Regions from separate parts of the Homo sapiens genome. Here region 1 is linked to region 2. Evidence: fine-mapped expression QTL. A gene starts in region 2. The other region holds a variant in brackets. All regions are shown on one strand. Distances are between the middles of the regions.

The links.
Region 1: its variant is fine-mapped to the expression of PABPN1L in whole blood (TOPMed, PIP 0.97).

Annotation. Positions count from the first base shown.
Region 1 is chr16:88,964,014-88,972,013 of GRCh38, forward strand. All of the region lies in intron 1 of CBFA2T3 (CBFA2/RUNX1 partner transcriptional co-repressor 3), which reads right to left. Among named protein-coding and RNA genes, the nearest start is that of CBFA2T3, 9.2 kb to the right of the region's middle. RefSeq lists enhancers at 2,119-2,178, 3,971-4,030, 5,000-5,855, 7,748-7,887 and a silencer at 3,691-3,740. The variant A/T (reference allele first, on the strand shown) is at 4,110.
Region 2 is chr16:88,861,492-88,871,785 of GRCh38, forward strand. It overlaps PABPN1L (PABPN1 like, cytoplasmic), which reads right to left and starts at 5,169. Exons shown (of 7, transcript NM_001080487.4): 1 at 4,861-5,169; 2 at 4,315-4,450; 3 at 4,072-4,139; 4 at 3,531-3,637; 5 at 3,362-3,449; 6 at 2,746-2,888; 7 at 1,842-2,304. The coding sequence starts at 5,115. The coding sequence ends at 2,265. It overlaps TRAPPC2L (trafficking protein particle complex subunit 2L), which reads left to right. Exons shown (of 5, transcript NM_001318525.2): 5 at 1-1,187. RefSeq lists enhancers at 2,269-3,019, 9,737-9,876.

The sequences.
Region 1 (8,000 bases), 100 kb after region 2:
AGCTCCCAGCCCTGCACCTGTGAGGTAGGTGGCACAGCTCTATGGGGGTCTTTAAAGGGCCACGCACACAAGACCATCTGCATACCTGGGCCGATCGGCTTAAAGGAATCCATATGTGGGTCTTCACCTTCCAGATTGTTCTGCAAACACGGCTTGGGGTCAGCTGTGTGCTGCTCCTGCCTGCTCTTCCCCCAATTCATGGGTTGCCTCTCTCTAGCATGAGTCTGATGACAGGGCTTCGACCCACCAGTGAAAACCTGGGGCAGGCCCCATGCCCTGCCTGCCTCCTGTTCGGAAACCACAGACCCAAAGGTGTAAAAAATCACGTTGACTTCTGGCCCTCCTGGTGTTAGCCAGGCTGCCAAGGGCCCAGTGGCCTCTTTTGACTTTTAATTTACTGCTGGTGAGGCTTCAGTTAGGGTTAGGGTGCAGAAAACTGACAAGTTGCAAGCTACTTGTTGTTCTGAAGAAAGATTGCACTTCACTAATTCCCACTCGTCAGGTTCCGTGTGGCTTTCCTTCTTCATGGGGTCTTTAATGTCCCTCGTCCCCTCTGAATCACCTGGGCTGCCCGACTGGCTCCCTCATCGCGGAATAATACACCTTTCACACATGCTTACTGTATGTGTGTATAAGAACTATGTTTTTAAGATTTGAAAAATATACTTTGACCTTTCCTTCCTGCTTCCTTACCTTTTTATCTTCCCATCCATCTATCCACCCACCAACCCATCTATCCATCCACCCACTCATCCATCCATCCACCCATCCATCCACCATCTATCCATCCAGTCACCCATCTATTCATCCATCTATCTATCCACCCACCCATCCATCCACTCACCCACCATCTATCCAACTGTCCATCCATCCATCCATCCACCATCTATCCACTTATCCATCCATCCATCCATCCATCCATCCATCCATCCATCCATCTATCCATCTATCCATCCATCCACCTACCCCACCCACCATCTATTTATCCATCTATCCATCCATCCACCCACCACCTATGCACTTCTCCATCCATCCATCCATCCACCCATCCATCCATCTATCCACCCACCCATCTATCCATCCATCCATCCATCCATCCATCCATCCACCCACCCACCCACCCACACATCCATCCATCTATATCACAATTAGAATTCAAAGTGAGGCATTTGGATCATTTAATAACATGCTTATTTGAATTAATATCTGACAAACATCAGTCTGGGCAGATTGTTTTTCAGTGAGGACCAGTTCTGCCCTTTGTTTTTAAGGCAGCATTTCTATAAATCAAGTGAGCTAAATGTGCAGATTTTCATAAGACCAGATGCCAAACACTGGTAACATATTAGGTATGCTAGAAAATACAGTTTTTGAGACTGTTTAATCAATGTTTAGAGGCTGCAAATTGGCCCATGTGGCACCATTGCCAAGGGTCCTGTGTCCAGCCTTTGGTTTAGAAGGATACTTGGTGCGCAGCGCCAGCCACAGGCCCCGAATCCTGCTTCTACAACCCAGGGGGCTAGGTCCCTGCGGGGCAGAGAGTTTGCAGAACAGGTGTGTGCCACGGCCAACACATGCCTCACACACTGTATGCAGCTGTTCTTCTGTGACCCAGTGGTGAGGTTGCGGGGTGCAGCTGTCACCTTATTTATTTTAACAACGTCTTGTCCACAGATACCTGTCATGTTTGAAAACCTCTCTAGTGGCTCCTGGGCCACCATTATCTGCCAAAAACGAAGCAGCATAAGGTCTGTGTGTGGCCAGGCTGGGTGAGGCTGCTTTGTAAGCAATTTCATCTTATAGGGGAACTTGGCTTGTCAAAAAAAAGTTTTAGGGAGCTCGCAAACAAAAGCATTAAAAGCCCACAGAACCACCGGCTTTGAGAATCGGGCCTGGTGCTTGGCACCTGACAGGTCCTCTCCACTGTGCCCGGTCCCTCCTCTGTGGGCTGATGTCAGGGGAGGGGACGGGGGCCCATTCGGCAGCAGGAACAGAGAGACCCCACAGAGCATGGGTGCATACAGAGTTCCCCCTGGGCCACTCCTTGGCCAGGGAAAGCAGACCTCGCCTCCTCTCGTAGCTGCAAGGTGGGGCCCCTCTGGACGGAGTGGGCTTTCCCGGTTTGTGTGGGTCGCTCTGCTCTGAGGGTCACTCTGCTCACTGGCCTGCACAGTCCCAGGACTTCCCCGACCTGAGTCACAGCACGGCTTCCTGAAACACATCTTGGCCACATTAGGCCGTCTCTAGGGACAGACTCCAGAGCAGCCAGCTAACAGGGCTGCCATTTTACCCTGGTCCTTGGCAGGAGTGAGGCCTGTGCCGGGGTAGGGGGGTGGCAGCCCCTGTGAGTGCCCACAGAGGAGAGCAGAGCGGGGGATCGCGAGTCCACAGACCTCCCGGCCCCTCTCCCACCTGTGCAGCATGGCTGGGCTACCTCCCCTGCCACACCCTCATCCCACCTGGGGTGACCACCAAACCCATGTCCAGACGAGGACCAGGCCCAATCAACCTCTGGCCTCCCATGAACTCAGTAGTGGAAGCAGTAGAAGCACCCGGTGCCAGGCCCTGCCCAGCGCCCAGCTTCCCAGCCTCCCTTGGAGGCCGGCCCTGGTTTCCACAAACAAGGAATTCCTCCAGGAGCAATGGACACTCTTGACCTCCAGAACCACTGCCTGCCATCACCAACACCTGCGCTGGACAGAGGCCTTTCTGAACACGAGCTGGGTGGGTTGGGGTGGGGGGCGTCTCCAGTGACTCCCGTGCCCTGGCCCTGCCTGGCTTGCAGAGCCACCCAGATGGAAGTCGGATGCAGCACGCCCACTGCTGCCCCTCAGAGACCAGGCGCTCATTTCCCCCAGGAAGCCGGGATAGGGCCCACACCCACCCTGGACTCTGGAAGCCCAGGATGAGAACTTCGTATCACACTCTAGTCCCTGTGGCCAATGTCTTGTGTTTGCCTTGGAGAAACCATGTGGGCCCCAGGGGACGAGGGAAAGCATCCTTGATTGAAGCATTGTTTGTAGCACGGGAAATTGACGCACTCAACCTCTCTCCATAGGGAAGCTGAGAACAGTGCGCTGGTGTGTGCCACCCCCAACCCCCAACCCCCGAGGTGCCACTCGGCCCCGACACGCGGCAGCACCATGCCACCCCCCAGCCCCCGAGGTGCCACTCGGCCCCGACACGAGGCAGCGCCATGCCACCCCCCCAGCCCCCGAGGTGCCACTCGGCCCCGACACGAGGCAGCACCATGCTCAATGCAGTCAGCCTCGCAGGTGTCGAGAGAGGAAATTGCAAAGGAAAATGAGAATTCGATGCCTTTTCTGTAACTGTGCGAGACACACTGCCTGGGAGCGACGGGGACGGGGCAGGATGCCTGGGGACGGCTTTCCACACCCTAAGTGCTGCCATGCGTCCACCTGTTCAGTTTTCACAGATGTGCCGGAGACGGGGACTGCTATTGCCCCATTTACCGATGAGGAAGCCGTGGTGGGGTGTGGGGTGGCTAAGCCTCTGAGCTAGGTCCCCCCAACCCCTTGATCCCATCTCGCCGCCCCCAGGTGGGGTGGCCTTCCGGGCTGGGGACACTGGACCTACAGGAATTCCTTTCTATAAAGAAGAGGGAAGGAAGGAGCAGGCCGGGGACGGGGACGGCGTGCTGCCCTGCGTGGCTCCCGCGACCTGGCTTCTCCTGGGGGGTTAAAGATCAGCCACAGAGCACAGGGGTGAGGGTCAGGCGCACACTGCCTGGGGGCTCGTCGCGGCTCAGCCCTCACACTGCCCCTTCCTGTCCAGGGCACCGGGGAACTCAGGACGCCCCCTGCCCCGGAGCAGCGCGTCCAGCGGGGGTCGGCGTGAGCTGTGTGGAGGCGCCCACCCTCCCTTGCAGCCAGAGGTAGGAAGTAGAAGGGAAAGAGGAGAGGTCGCTCTGTGGCCTCCAGAATGTCACCATTTTCACACATGTTCAGTTTATAAACTTTTAAGCTTTCTGCATCCTTCTTTTCGCACCATGACTAAAGTGACTGAAATTCTGTGGGTTCGACGGGTCATGGGGCTGAGTTGGGACCATGTGACCACAGGGCTTTGATGAGGAACCCCCCATACCGCCC[A/T]TGCTGGGGCCCACCTGGAGGAAATAGGCCCAGAGAGGCACGCCCTGGTGAGAGGCCGAATAAGGGTGGACCACAGGGGACTGCCAGGGGCCCTGGCCGCAGGACTGCCCGTCCCAGCTGTCTCTGGCCCTGGGGAGGGGCTCAGTAGGGAGGGGCGGGAAGCACCTGGCAGTTTCAGTTTCGCCAGGAAGCGGCTGCCTGCTGTCTCCCTTCCCACCCGCCGCCCGGAGAGCCCCCCAGGTGGGGACGGCCCCTTGCACTGCAGACGAGGAAGCCCCAGCTGAGGGGCCGCAGGACAAGCCTCACGGCTCCTGGCAGTGGGGACAGAGCCAGGCCCAGCCTCAGCTGCGTCTCAGGAGGACCTGGGGTGGGAGAAGCCCCTGGGGGCCGAGAGCAGATGAGGGCAGATCTGACTGGCATCTTCTGTCACCTGCTGGTGACCTTTTAGAACACGTGGTCCCAACCCTTGGTCTAGAATATGCTGCCGTGTTGGAGGGGCAGAAGCAGCTGAGACGGCTGTCCGTCCCCCGCCTGTCAGTCCGTCTGTCTGGGGCTGGGGGTGTCAGGACAACACCCACCACTGCAGGCCCCCTTGGGAATAAGCGGCAAGAAGCTTCGGGGTCCAGTTTGCACCGAGCCCCTCCAGCGGGGACGCCTCTTTCATTTCTGCACCCTGCGCCTGGCACGGAGGGGTGTGCGGTCAGCGGGTGGGGGCTGATTGGGTGACTTGCAGTGACAGGGTGGCGAGGCCCTGGACCTGAGTGCCATGTGACCCCCATGGACCATAACCCCTCTGAGCTCCAGGGTCTGCAGCGCTGCAGGCCTCACACAAATCGGGGGCCAGGAGCCTAAGATCTGCTCTCTAAATCTGGGAGCCCAGCCAGAGCAAGCCCTCAGCAGACCCAGCCCCAGTGTGCGGCCTGGTGCCCCCGTTTTGAGGAATCCCCCATCCTCTCGTGAGCAGTCGGCTGGGTCAGGCTGGCTCCACCGGCTCTGGGATTCGGCTGCAGCCTGGCCCGGATGCCGCCGGGGTCACCGCCATCTGGAGTGAGGGGCTGCAGCGGACACGGCTGGAGGGACGGTTGCAAGGTCCCCTCCCCCACTCTGTCCCCCTCAGGTCTGTGAAGTCGGGACTTTCTAGACACTCAAAACACACCTGGACTTGGGAGCTCAGGAGGAAGCTCCGGGAGCCCACAGGGTGGGGTGAATTCTCCAGTTCCTTCTCTACTGGGCTCCCTCCCGGCTGGTGCCTCCTGGCCTTGGCAGGGGTGGGAGGCCTGGTGTCTGCAGGGCCAGCTGCGGGGGTCGCAAGAGCGGGGCCCCTTGGGAAGGAGTGCCAGGAAGAGGGTCTTTCCTCACCAAATCCCACCCCAGCCTTCAGGAGGGGCTCGCCGCCACCCCGTTTTACAAACAGGAGACAGGCTGGGGTCAGCGTGGCCGGTGGACAGCAGTTTCCATTCCCACCATGGTCGGGTCCAGCCACTGCCCCTCACAGACCAGGGAGCCGAGGGAGAGGGGGGCGGGGCCGGCCTGACGACGCACAGACCTCAGCACCGCCCGTGGGGCTGCATCTTGCAGGCTCAGGGCAGCAGGCCAGGCTTGGCTGCCAGGGTGCGAGTGGCAGGTGCCGGGGGGCAGGTGCTGGGGCTCCCGGTGGGCCCTACTAGAGGGCACCGTGGACCCGGTCCAGTTAGGGTGAGCATGGCCTGGGGGGTTGCGATTTGGCAGAGCCCCCGATCTTCTGCAAGGCTGTGGGTTCACCCCATCCCCCTCCACAGGGGCCTCCCAAAATGAGCCCCAGAAGCTGTGGCTGTTGGAGGCTTCTGCCATGTCTTCTCAGGAGGGCATGCCTTCTGGCCCCACTCCTCCCAGGGAGAAAGCCACACTTGGGGCCCTCACCCCAGGAGTCCTCGTCTCCACAAAGGGGGCGCCTGGAAAAGCTGATGGAAATTCACGTCAGTGGGAGGCAGGCCTGGGGGAGGGGTTGGCCCACTCTCCAAAAGCTGCCAGTGAAACGGCTGCTCTGCAGCTGTCCTGGGCCGAGAGAGGATTTCACTCCAGGAGGCGGTGGCGGCGGCCCCAAGCCGGCAGCCTTGCTGTGTGATCAGCTGGGTGTCAGGATGTGCTTGATCCAGGGGTCGGCGACGCGGGTGTCAGGCAGCACCTGCGTGGGGCTTCCTCAGGTGAAGCAAGGAGACGGAGAGGTGGGTTCGGAGGGGCTCAGCTGAGGGCGCGGCTCTCGTCTCAGAGCAGGGCGTGCAGTGGGGTCCCTCTCCTGAGATGCGACCTCAGCTGCCTTGCCTCTGGGAGGGTCCCTGGCAGAGATGCACAGCCTGGGAGGACGTGGCCCACCCCAGCCCCGCTGTGTGAGCTCGGCTGGTTTCCTGACCTTTCTGATTTGTGTCCTCATCTGAGGTCAGCGATGCCCTTGAAGTGTTGCCGGGTGAAAGCCGGGAAGGGATTGCCGTCTGCCCCTTCCCTCCGGGGCCACAGGGCCTGAGTTCCTGGGAAAACTGTGGAGCCAGTCCCTGCCTCAGCACCAGCAGGATGCACACAGCCAAGTAACAACTGAAGGACCAGGAGCACGGAGGCCTCGCCTCGCCTGGAGATGGAATAGACTCACGCCTTCCAGGGCTCAGCACCCTCCTGGGCCAGCACCGTCTGCTGAGGGCCCTGCTGCAAGCAGGCACCAGAGCCCCTGTCTCGTGCAGCCGACGCTGGGGGCCGGGGGATGAGTAGTACGTAAGGGGGCAGCTGGTTTTTCTCATGGGGTGACAGATTGAAGGAGAGGAACACCGAGGGAAGGAGGTCGGTCGGGAGGGGGCTCCTCGGCGAGGGCATAGCACAGGCACGGGCTCGGGAGGCTTGTGGAGCCGCCAGGCAGCCGGGGCTGTGAGTGCCGGAGGCCGACGCGGTGGGGTCGGGCCGGGAGGGCTGGGCCGTGGGTGTGCGCAGGTGTGATGTGGCTGACGTGTTTTCATCAACTCAATTTTCCTTTTTTTTTAAAGACACGGTCTCCCTCTGTCATCCAGGCTGGAGTGCAGGGGCGCAATCTTGGCTCACTGCAACCTCTGCCTCCTGGGTTCACACGATTCTCCCGCCTCAGCCTCCCGAGTAGCTGGGATTACAAGCACCCACTACCACACTCAGCTAATTTTTGTATATTTACTAGAGGCAGGGTTTTGCCATGTTGGCCAGACTGGTCTCGGAATCCTGGCCTCAAGTGATCCGCCTGCCTCGGCCTCCCAAAGTGCTAGGATTACAGGCATGAGTCACGGCACCTGGCCTTGATTTTTCAAATGACATGGTGACCCAGCCACTCTCTGCCCACCTGAGAGAGCTGCCTGGGGCCTGGGGTGGGCAGAGCTGGGAGAGGAAGCCCCTCGGTGGGGTCCCCGCTGTGGACCTGTGTCCTGGGCAACTGCCCGACAGGCCTGGGAGCGGCCGTCCTGGGGGTGGACTTGGGGGTTTTGTGCTGAGAACTTCATTGGCGCCTGCTGCAGGCCGGCCTCTGGCTTTGTAACAGTCGACCTGAGTGACCCAGTCCACAGCTCCCAGCTGGAGTTCCTTCAAAGGGTGGGTGGGCGGCCCTCAGACAGGCCTCTCTTTTCCCTGCTTCTCTCCAGCTGCCCCTGGCCGACGTCTCCTCGGAGGAGCACTGGCCGGCGAGTCCTGGCTCAGCTGTGACCAATCGGCCTCTCCCTGAGGCCGCTCTTCCTGCCTGCGCCTCCCCGGTCAACTGCAGTCACGGAAGTGAAAGTGCCGGAAAACCCCTGCCCAGCGCCCAGGCAGGTTAACGGGACGCACTGCTTCTCGGTCCACATGTGGTGAGAAGTGAAAGTTGTCTTCGCCTAAAGAGTGGCCTCCTAGAGCCGCCCCCATGGGGCCACT
Region 2 (10,294 bases):
GGAGCCCTTGTGAAACCTGGGAAGCCTCGTGGCCCCGCGGCGTTGGCTCAGCTGCAGCCCTGGTCCTAAACCTTGGAGCGCAGACTTGAGGCACCCCCTCCTGCCTGTTGGTGCTGAGGGGGTTGGGTGCTGTGTCACTTGATGACGTGGCTGACTACCACCCAGGGCAGCGGCCGAGCCCATAGTGGCGTCAGTGCCGCCGGCGTCCTTGGGGTCCAGCGGTCAAGGCTCAGCCCGCTGAGGGGACCCCCCCGGAGTTGGTTCCAGCACTGGTCCAGGACTGGAGAGTTTCTCAAGGACCTTGAGGACCCCAGAAGCCCTTGCAGCAGGAAAGGCTGTAAGGGGGGGTCAGCCTAGGGCAGGACCTAGGGAGGGGAACTTTCTTGATACATATTTGCCTTTTCATCCCATCTAGCAAGCACAGTGTTAATTTTAGAAATTATAGAAGAAAAAATCAGCAAGGAGTGTGGGAAAACTGCATGCCCCAGGCCTCCCCCGCCCCAGGGTGAATTGGAAGCCCTGGAATGGGCCGAGGCACACCAGGCAGCTGATCTGGGTGCATGTGGGCCACAGACCACTCTCACAAGGTTAAATCTTTAACAAGAGCCTCATGTTTGTTAGGAGAAGGTGGGACCCCAGCCCAAGCACTTCCCCATTGCAGCCTGGCATGAAATCTTTGCCTTTTAGTGGGGATCACTCCTGCCCGAGTCCTGGCTGTGGTGGGGACTCTGCAAGTTGCTAACCCAGCGTCCATTCTCTTTCCTCCGTACTAACAGAACCCCGGTGCCTCTGCCCAGTTCCAATAGCGGGCAGACGAGAGCCATGTCCTGGGCTCCCTTGCAGCCCGGGGTGTGCAGCTGTGGCGTGGAGGTGGGTGGTGCTGGGAGAGACTTGCAGGGAAGCTCCTGTGAAGGGGACTCAGCTGCCACATGCAGGACCCTTCCCCTTTGCCTTCTTCCTGCCTGGAACATGGATGTGATGGCTGGTGCTGGGACAGCTGTCCTGAGAGCGTGAGGAAAGGGTCACACCCTAAGGACAGTGGAGCAGAACACAGGAAGGACCCTGGGCCTTTGCTGACGCAGAACGCGGGAAGGACCCTGGGCCTTTGCTGACATACCAGCCCCAGACTACTTAAATTCAGCTTTTTTTTTAATGTGAGAAAATAAATGCACCCCTCTCTGGTTTAAGCCACTGATTTTTGGGTTTTCTGTTAGGTGCAGCCAGACCCACCTGTAAGTACTTTTTACATGAGGGCGTTTTCACAAGCCTTGTTAGGCAGCATCCCCATTTTAAGCCCAAGGAAACAGTGCCTGATGAGGCGCTGTTAGTCGTGGAATGCTGGAGTCAGGTGTGTGCACATAAGCAGCCTTGGGCTTCTGCGGCCGTGCATGCAGCCAGGGAGCCCGACTGGCTGTGCTTTCAGAGGGGACAGTCGTCAAAGTGCCCAGGACAGAGACCTCCACTTCTGCTTCCTGAGCTTCTGACAAGGGCCAGCGTCCCGGGTGTCTGTGTCACTTGGTGGGGGACATGTGGCAGGGTTACGAGGTGTGGGGGCACCTTGACAGGCAGTTGCAGCCCACCAGGCTGGCAGTGGCATTGACACCGCCTCAGCCTGTGCACGCTGCCCGCTTGCTGTCAGTCGCGAGGGGTCTGGAGCCCTGTCCTCATCCCACAGCCACGGCTCGCCAGCCGCCTTCTGTGTCCCGTCCCACGGGGAGACGCGGAGGGAACCGCGCGCCCCGTCCCACGGGGAGACGCGGAGGGAACCGCGTGTCCCGTCCCAGGGAGAGATGCAAAGGGAACTGTGTCCATGGGGGGAATGCACAGGAGTGCTGCTGCCATTTGCTTTTAAAAAGAGCCCAAGTTTAATAATTTATGCTTCACCATTAAGACACACGTTTCTATTTTTCTTAAAATGACTTAGTTGAAGAGCTGAGCATGCCAACCCCAAGCTGGCCTGGCACTGCCTGGGACTCTGCTCCTCCCCTCCCTCAACACCCAGAGCCCCGCAGATCCCCGTGGGGCCCATGCCAGGCTCACCACCGGGCCGTGGCTGTGACTCGTGGCTGTGGCCTTGGGTCTGGACCACCATACAAGGCCCTACTGGGCCATCCCCCCGCCAAGAGGGGGCCAGTGGCTGCTCTGGACACCCCTCTCCTCTGGCCTCGCCCCCGCGCCACTCCCTGCCCCAGCCCCAGGATGGAGCACAAGTGGTTTACTCCTGATCCAGGCCCCAGCCCCTCTCTCAAAATCGGGTCTTCCCTTTAATACGGTGAAAACCATGGTGAGAATTTTCCACGGGCCCTGCACGGAGAGAGAACACACACTGAGTGGCCTTCCAGAGGAGAAGGGGTGGTGGCCCAGGGCCCCGGGGGACAACAGGATAAGGATGCAGGGAGGTCACCTGGCTGCTCAGGCAATGCCCCAGGGGCCTTTCTGGTGACTCCCAGCTGCTCTCTTGGGAGGGTCCCACGAAAAGGAAAGGCAGTGCCAGGAGAGCCCCTTGGGGCAGCTGTAGCCCACCCTGGGGCCTTTGTGGGAACAAGAAGGGGTCACCTCTCCCAGCAGAGAGGCTACAAAAAGCGCCCCCCCCACCAGCTGATGCAGCAGCCACAGCCCTCACCCAGGCCCCGCCAGGTACATTCCTGCAGCCCCATGAGGAACGAGCTCAGGGACCCCCTCCTGCCCCTGATGCCCTCCACCATGGCCCTCGCCCCCAGGCTGCCCCCACAGGCACCCACTCACCGGTTCTGCCCTTGTGGTCTGAGCCGGGGCCTGCCCTGGAGGCCGCTGTGGGGGAAGGGTGCCCCCCTGGAGCCTGGGTGTCCTCGAAGGCCCCCGCGGTCTGTGGAGCTGATCCCAGGGAAGTTGGTTCTTTTCGGCAGCACCTGGAGCAAAGGCCTGTTTTGAGTCCTCCTCAAGGAGCAGCCGAGACCCAGCTCACAGCCCCCGCAGCCCCCACCACCCCGGAGCATGGGGTCCTGCCCGGCTCAGGATACCATTCGGGCCTACAGGGTTCCCTGCCTTTGCCTACCATAGCTGTCATATGACACCCCGTCACGGCCAGCACCCCTGCAGAGGGGGGGGTCACGGCCAGCACCCCTGCAGAGGGGGGGGTCACGGCCAGCACCCCTGCAGAGGGGGCTCCCGCCCGAGAGGGGACACTTCCCCACCATGCCACTGGCAGACCAAACCCAGCTTCAGGTCCGAGGGTCCCGCCACATCCTGTCCAGGCCCAGCCAAGCACCGTGCCTGAGACACGCTGTGCAGAGAGGAGCCAGCTGGGGCTGCTGTGTGTCCCAGGGCCAGTGGGCCAGCCCCTCTGCGCTCATGTTCCTGGACCTGGGGAGCACCGGCGCACCTTGATGACCCGGCCCCGGAAGAGGCTCTGGTCCAGCTCCACGGCGGCCTGCACGGAGCCCTTGGTGGCAAACTCTATGTAGGCATAACTGAGGGGAGGGGCAGGGAGGGGAGGGGTGAGGCTGGGCCCTGTCCGCATGGCCAGTGCCCCCACCAGGCCCCACACTGACCCCTTGGGGTGTCCAGAGAACTTGTCACACAGGATCGTGACTCGGTGGACCTCCCCACAGCGGCTGAAGTGGGCCTCCAGCTCCTCGGCGGAGCCCCCGTAGTCCACCTGCACCCAGGCCCAGACCAGCATGTGAGGGAGACGCCTGGCCCTGACTCGGGGCCTTCTTGTTAGAGGTGAGGAAAGAAACCCCAAGGCTGGGCCCCGTGGCGGGGATGGCCCCAGGCCTCCACCCCACACCCCCGCTGGGGTTGGAGGGAAGAGAGGAAAGGATATCTCGTATGGAGCGCTTCCTTCTGGAGAGCTGGAGCCTTTTAAAAAGCTTCTCAAAAGTGGAGATTTCATGTGCAACCCCGAATTCCAGCTCATGTTGAAAAACTGGAATATGTGCCCAGGCCAGTGTTTCCTCAAGGTGACGGGGCTGCCCCCAGGGTCAGACCCCCTTCCCAGCAAGGCTGCCTGGCCCATGGCCGGGCGCCAGACCCTCTGGTAGAGATGGGGCCCCATTCGCTGCCTGCCCCTTCACCCCGCCCACCACTCACGTTGCCCACGTAGACGGATCTGTGGTCAGCCTCCACCTTCTCCTCGGGGGTCCCAGAGAGGGGGCAGCCTGCGGAGAACACAGCTCAGGCCCGCAGGCCCTTGGTTCCTTCCTCACTCCTCTCACGGGGAAGGTCGCCCAGGCTTATAGGGGAGGTGACACCTTGGAGCCTGCCAGGCCCAACCTTAATGGAAACTGTGGGACCCTTGCTCAGTGGGGGGCGGCCTGTGCCCTTGGTTCCTACCCACGGTCTCAGGGCTCAGCAGCTGCCCGGCCGCGGTGCCCTCCTCTTCCTCGGCCTGTTGCTGCACTCCTGGAGGCCGTGGCGTCCCCTCGGCCTGCTCCATGGCACACACCTTCATCTTGATGGCCTCCAGCTCCTGCCGACACACGGCCCTGAGCCGGGCAGGCAGCCTGCAGGCTCTGCTCAAGGAAGGTGGGTGTGTGGCCTGCCAGCTCCAGCAGAGGGTCACAGCCCCAAGGGGCAGCCCTTCTCTGGACAGGGACACTCCTTCCTGGGGCAGCTGGCTGGGGATGAACTCGCCCCTGCAGAGAAGCCCCCGAAACCGCACCTCAAGGGCCCTTCCCCAGGCGAGAGAGGCCACCTTGACCCTGCAGTCTGTGTGGCTGGGGGCGGGGGGTCTCCTTGCCACCTTCGTCCAGGCAGGTGGGCAATGGCCCTCTCCCCTCCTAAGTCAGCTGCAGCCATCCGTCACCCAGACCCCGTGTCTCCACCAGCCCCTGTGCCCCAGGTCCCCTGAGATCCCCAGGGCCTCCACACAGCTGTTACCTGGTCAGGCAATGGGCACTCAGCCAGGTTCTCTTGCTCCAGCAGAGACAGCAGAAAGCCTGCATCCCCATCCTGGTCTTCCTCTGCATCCTCTTCCTCCTCTTTCTCCTCCTTCCCTTCCCCACCCTCTGGCCCCAGAATCTCCTTGGTCTCGTTCCAGGCCCCCCAGCCCTGGGCCTCAGGGTCTGAGGAGACCGTCTGGAGCCAGGCCTGAGTCGGGGGTGGGAAGAGAGAGCGGCTCGGGAAGGGCCACATGGTAGAGGGGCAGGAGGAAGGTGGGCCAGGCGAGGCCTCCCCTCCACTCCCCTCGCGTCCGCACCTGCCCAGGCTCTCCTGGAGTTTTAAGCCCTCCCCTGAGGCCAGCTGCTCCCACTAGAGCATTTGCAAAGGCTGAGTGGGGCTGAGCTTCCAGCCTTGGCTCCCGGCCCCGCCCCTTCCCTGTCACTCGGACAGGTACCTCCAGGACACTCTCCCTGGAGGAAGGAGAGGCTGAGTTGAGTGGGGGTCACCGGTCTCTTCTGCTTCCGCCTGGCCACGCTGTGGCTCACTGGAGCCTTGGTCTGTGACAGGGTTCACACCTCAGCAGCATCCACACGGCACGAACGCCACACTGCATGAACACTCGATCTAAGTGGGAACACGGGAGTGGTTTCTTCTAGTACCAGGGACCAAGCAGGCTGGAGAGGTGGCTTCCGACCAGGAGAGGCAGGGCCTGAGCAGAGACCGAGAGCAGGTGCATGGGATGAGAGGGCCGAGGCAGGTTGGGGCGGGGTCCTGGGCCCAGAGGAGGGGCAGCAACAGCTGTCTCTGCATCCTGACCCCCATGGAGTCCCCAGGGACCCTTGCCTCCCTAACCCTTATTCTGGGCCTTTTTTTTTTTTTTCTTTTTTTTTTAGGCAGGAGTCTTGCTTTGTTGCCAAGTCTGGAGTGCGGTGGCGCGATCTCGGCTCACGGCAACCTTTGCCTCCCAGGTTCGGGTGATTCTCCTGCCTCAGCCTCCTGAGTAGCTGGGATTACAGGCACCTGCCACCATGCCCAGCTAATTTTTTTTGTCTTTTTAGTAGAGACAGGGTTTCACCATGTTGCCCAGGCTGGTCTCGAACTCCTGACCTCAGGTGATCCGCCCGACTCGGCCTCCCGAAGTGCTGGGATTACAGGCGTGAGCACCGCACCTGGTCTGGGTCATCTTTTAGGTGGGAGCCACTTCCATGAGGCCAGAATTATTCTGCTGTGGGGCGGGGGCTCCGTGGGGAGTGACGGCGTGAGTTATTGTGGGGCGGGGTCTCCGTGGGGAGTGACGGCGTGAGTTACTGTGGCGGAATTCAGTGGGCATCCGGTGGTGTCTGCACCTGGCTTCACCCATGCAGGGTTGCAGCAGGAGGTGACCCGTGTCCGCCCTTGCGCCTCCCTCTGCACCTGCCACCGCGGCTGCTGGAGTCTGCTCTGGCCTTCATCTCCAGTGCTGCCGTCTCCCACCCACTCTGTGAAGGACTCGGGGCCAGGGGGTCATGCATGGCTCTTACCCCTGCCATTGGTGGTGGGAGACGGGGCCCCCTGCACAGCTCCTACCCCCAGGCCGAGGCCATCCTCTCTGTGACTGCACCCCGGTGTTTAGCCAGTGGGGCTGGGATTCCTGGGAATTTGGGACTGGGGGAGGAGAGAGAGACAGGGCGTGGCCTAGGCTGGAGCTGCACTGCTGCACCATGCACCACCCACGCAGGGCGGCCCTTCCTCCATCTTGGGCTGGGGGCTCGGGGAGCAGGTGGACATGGAGGCTGCCACAGCCTGGGAACCCAGGCTCCTGCACCCAGTCTGTTCTCACCTCTGTAAAAGCCAGAAGGTGTCTGAGATGGGTCTCAATCAATCAGTTTAGAGGTGTATCTTGCCAAGGTTAAGGGTGCACCCAGGAAAAAGAAACACGAAGCCACAGGCAACATCTGTGCTCTGCTTTTTCCAAAGAGGGTTTGGAGGCCGGGCATGGTGGCTCACGCCTATAATCCCAGCAGTCTGGGAGGCCGAGGTGAGCGGATCACTTAAGGTCAGGAGTTCAAAACCAGCCTGGCCAACATGGTGAAACCCTGTCTCTACTAAAAATACAAAAACAATTAGCCAGGCATGGTGGCGGGCGCCTGTAATCCCAGATACTTGGGAGGCTGAGGCAGGAGAATCACTTGAACCCGGGAGGCAGAGGTTGCAGTGAGCCGAGATCGCGCCACTGCACTCCGGCCTGGGCGACGGAGTGAGACTGTCTCAAAAAACAAAAACAAAAAAACCCAAAGAGGGTTTGGAGACTTTTATACTTAAAGGGAAAGAGCGGGCAGGAGGGGAACACAGGAAGGAAAGAAAAGGGAGGGCGGATAAAAGGCAAGTGGTAGCGTTCCTTTGAATCTCTGATTGGCAGTCACCAAATGCACATTTTGAAATGTGGAAGGTGGGGGTAGAGAAGAGAATTACGTAGCCCCACGCTCAGCGACTCTGCGTTTCCACAGAAGATAAAACTGCCACAGGGAATAGGAAGCTGGCAGGTTCGCATTCGCCTCCGGTGAGCGGAGGGTAACGTTAGCTCTGTCCTTTGTCCCATACCTGGGAAGATAAGCTGCTAGATCACACTATCTGGGTGGGATCCAGCAGAACTGTTTCAGAGCCAAGATCTTGGGACCCACAAGGAATTTCCCTGTAAGCGCGATGCGAGGAGGCACAGGCTTCTTCATCTTCGTGGCTGTCCAATTAGGAAGAAAATGGGAGGCAGGTGTGTGTGATTCGGCTCCCAGCTTGACTTTTCCCTTTGGCTTAGTGCGTTTTAGGTCCCGAAATTCTGTTTTCTTTTCCCACCTCCAGGAGGCTGACTGAAGACCATGCTGTCACCCCATCTGTTCACCACCCAGAGGATTTTCTGGGGCAGGCTCATGAGGTCGGGGAGGAATGGGCCTTGTCTGGAACCTGGCTATGGCCCTGGACGCCCCTTCCCCTCTCCCTGGCTCCGCACAGCCACACACTTACGTGTGCGTGGTCCCTGGACGCTGTTCCCCCTGCGAACACGGTGCCACTGTTTCCGGGAGGGCTGCCGGGCTGCTCCTCCTCCCTCGAGAGCCGCTGTCCTCACGCCTTTCCTGCTGTCCGTCCAGTGTTGATGACTTGGCCAGCTCTCCCCTTAGAAACCAAAGCTCCTCAGGGGCAGCGCCCACATCTGCACCGAGGACAGGTACGCTGGGTGGAGTGCGGCCTCAGCCTGGGATCCTCCTGTTGGGATGGAGCCCCCTGCCCCGTGTGTCTGTGCCTGTGTGTTGGAGGGTCTGCCAGCACCCGTGCCTCCACCTCCCTGTCAGAGGCAGGATTGCAACCAGTTCCATCCAAGACCAGAGTCTGCTGGACTCGGCCCAGGCCCTGACGCATGCCCCTCTGAGCTCGGGCCCCGGCCATGGAAAACCTTGTCATCCTCACCCTGTCTGAGATTGCTGACACACAAGGCCCGGCCAGGGCTCCTGCCAGCTGCCTGGCAGGGGACAGACGGCTCCGACCCTGGCCTTTCCAGTGACACTCTTCAAATACACCCTGTTCCAGAGCCGGGCCTGAGGATTCATGGCAGCCTGGCCCCTGGGGCCCCAGCGCCCAGGACAACTCCTATTCCAGACAGGATCCGTGTGTGACCCAACACCAGGGCCCCATGGGGGTGGCTGAGAGGGGCAAGCCGTCCCTTCCTGTGCTGTCCACCCTCAGGTCCCCTGTGTCCCCTCAGTTTTCATTTCTTTTTTTTTTTTGAGATGGAGTCTCACTCTGTTGCCCAGACTGGAGTGCAGTGGCACGATCTCGGCTCACTGCAACCTCCACCTCCTGAGTTCAAGGGATTCTCCTGCCTCAGCCTCCCAAGTAGCTGAGATTACAGGCACCCGCCACCACACCCAGCTAATTTTTTGTATTTTTAGAAGAGATGGGGTTTCACCATGTTGGCCAGGCTGGTCTTGAACTCCTGACCTCAGGCAATCCACCCGCCTCGGCCTCCCAAAGTGCCGGGATGACAGGCGTGAGCCACCGTGCCTGGCCTCCCCTCAGTGTTGTCTGTGTCCCCTGAGGTCCCCTGTGTCCCCCATCGGGGTCGGAGGTGTCATGGCCCCAGCCCCAGCACTGTCTGAGGTGGGGCTGCTCAGGCAGGGGCTCCAGTCTTGGAATCCTCAGGACCATCTCCCGGGTGTAAAGTTGTTGGGACCCCCCCAAAGTCCCCTTTGCAGGCTCAGCCGTTGCCAGCCCTGCAGGGACCCTCGTGGCTGGGGCTGCTGCTCCTCCCTGCCTGTGTGCTCCCGCCCTGCCTCTTCCCCGTCGTGCTCCCGCCCTGCCTCTTCCCCGTCGCCCCAGCCCCACGTCACACACTGGCCTGTTTGTCCCTGCAGTGTGCGTGGTGCATGGGGAGGCCCCGCCCTACCAGGCACGGAGGAGCCCCAGCAGGTAATTAGTGAATTCACGGGTGAGACGAGGCTCAGCCGAAGCCTCCTGGGACCCAAGGAGAGGAACAGCCAGGCGACAGCGAACGTTCGCTTTATTACACGGACACGGCGCTAACCCGACTATTGCATCTCACAGCATCTACAGGCCAAACCCATAGTACGTCAGACGGAGCGGCGAGGGCCACCTCGCAGCCCTGCACAGCCTGCAGACCCAGGGCATGGGCTTCTCACAACTACAGAAAACAACTCAACTCCTCTGGGAGAGTCAAAAAAAAGAGGAGGAGAAAGTAGAGAGTAAGTCCCCTCCCCACCAGGCTGCACATGGCTGTGCCCCCGCCTGGTCCTCACCGGCCCGACCCCCTCGGCCCTGGCAGATGGGGTTGGGGAGCTGACAGCTGGCCTGGCGGGGCTCCCCACCCCAGCCAGGTGGGGACAAGGGAGGCCTGTTGCCGTCATTGACGTATTTCAAAAGCAGGTTTCACTCTGAGTACTGACGCTGAGTTCCCGTTCCTCTGGGTCTTTGGGAAGCTACTCCGGGGCTTGGCTGGATTGAAACATAAAGAACAGAAAGTGTCCAAAATGGAGTTTCCTAGAACTTCGGGAAAATGGAGCAGGGGTTGTCAGCAGCGCCCTGGCCTTATCTCTGAAGTGTGCACGGGAGCTGGCGGGCCTCTGGGAGGCCAGCCCCATGGACTCCCCCCTCTCCTCACTGTCTTCCTCTCCGGCCAGCACGCTCATCATCCAGGGCCCCAGCCCCATTTTGGAGAGCACCCCCTCAGTGTGGGAGCTTGCAGGGCAGTGTGGGAGGAAATAGGCCCCGGGGCTCGGGGATGCAGGGCAGGGAGGCTGCAGAGGACCCTGGGGAGCACCCATCACTCCTGGCAGAATTTATCCAGGCAGGTCTGTTCCCAGAAGTCCCCAGTCTCAGGCCGTAAGGACTCAACTCTGAGCCATCTGGGATCCCAGGAAAGGGAATGGGAGCCTGGCACCTGTGA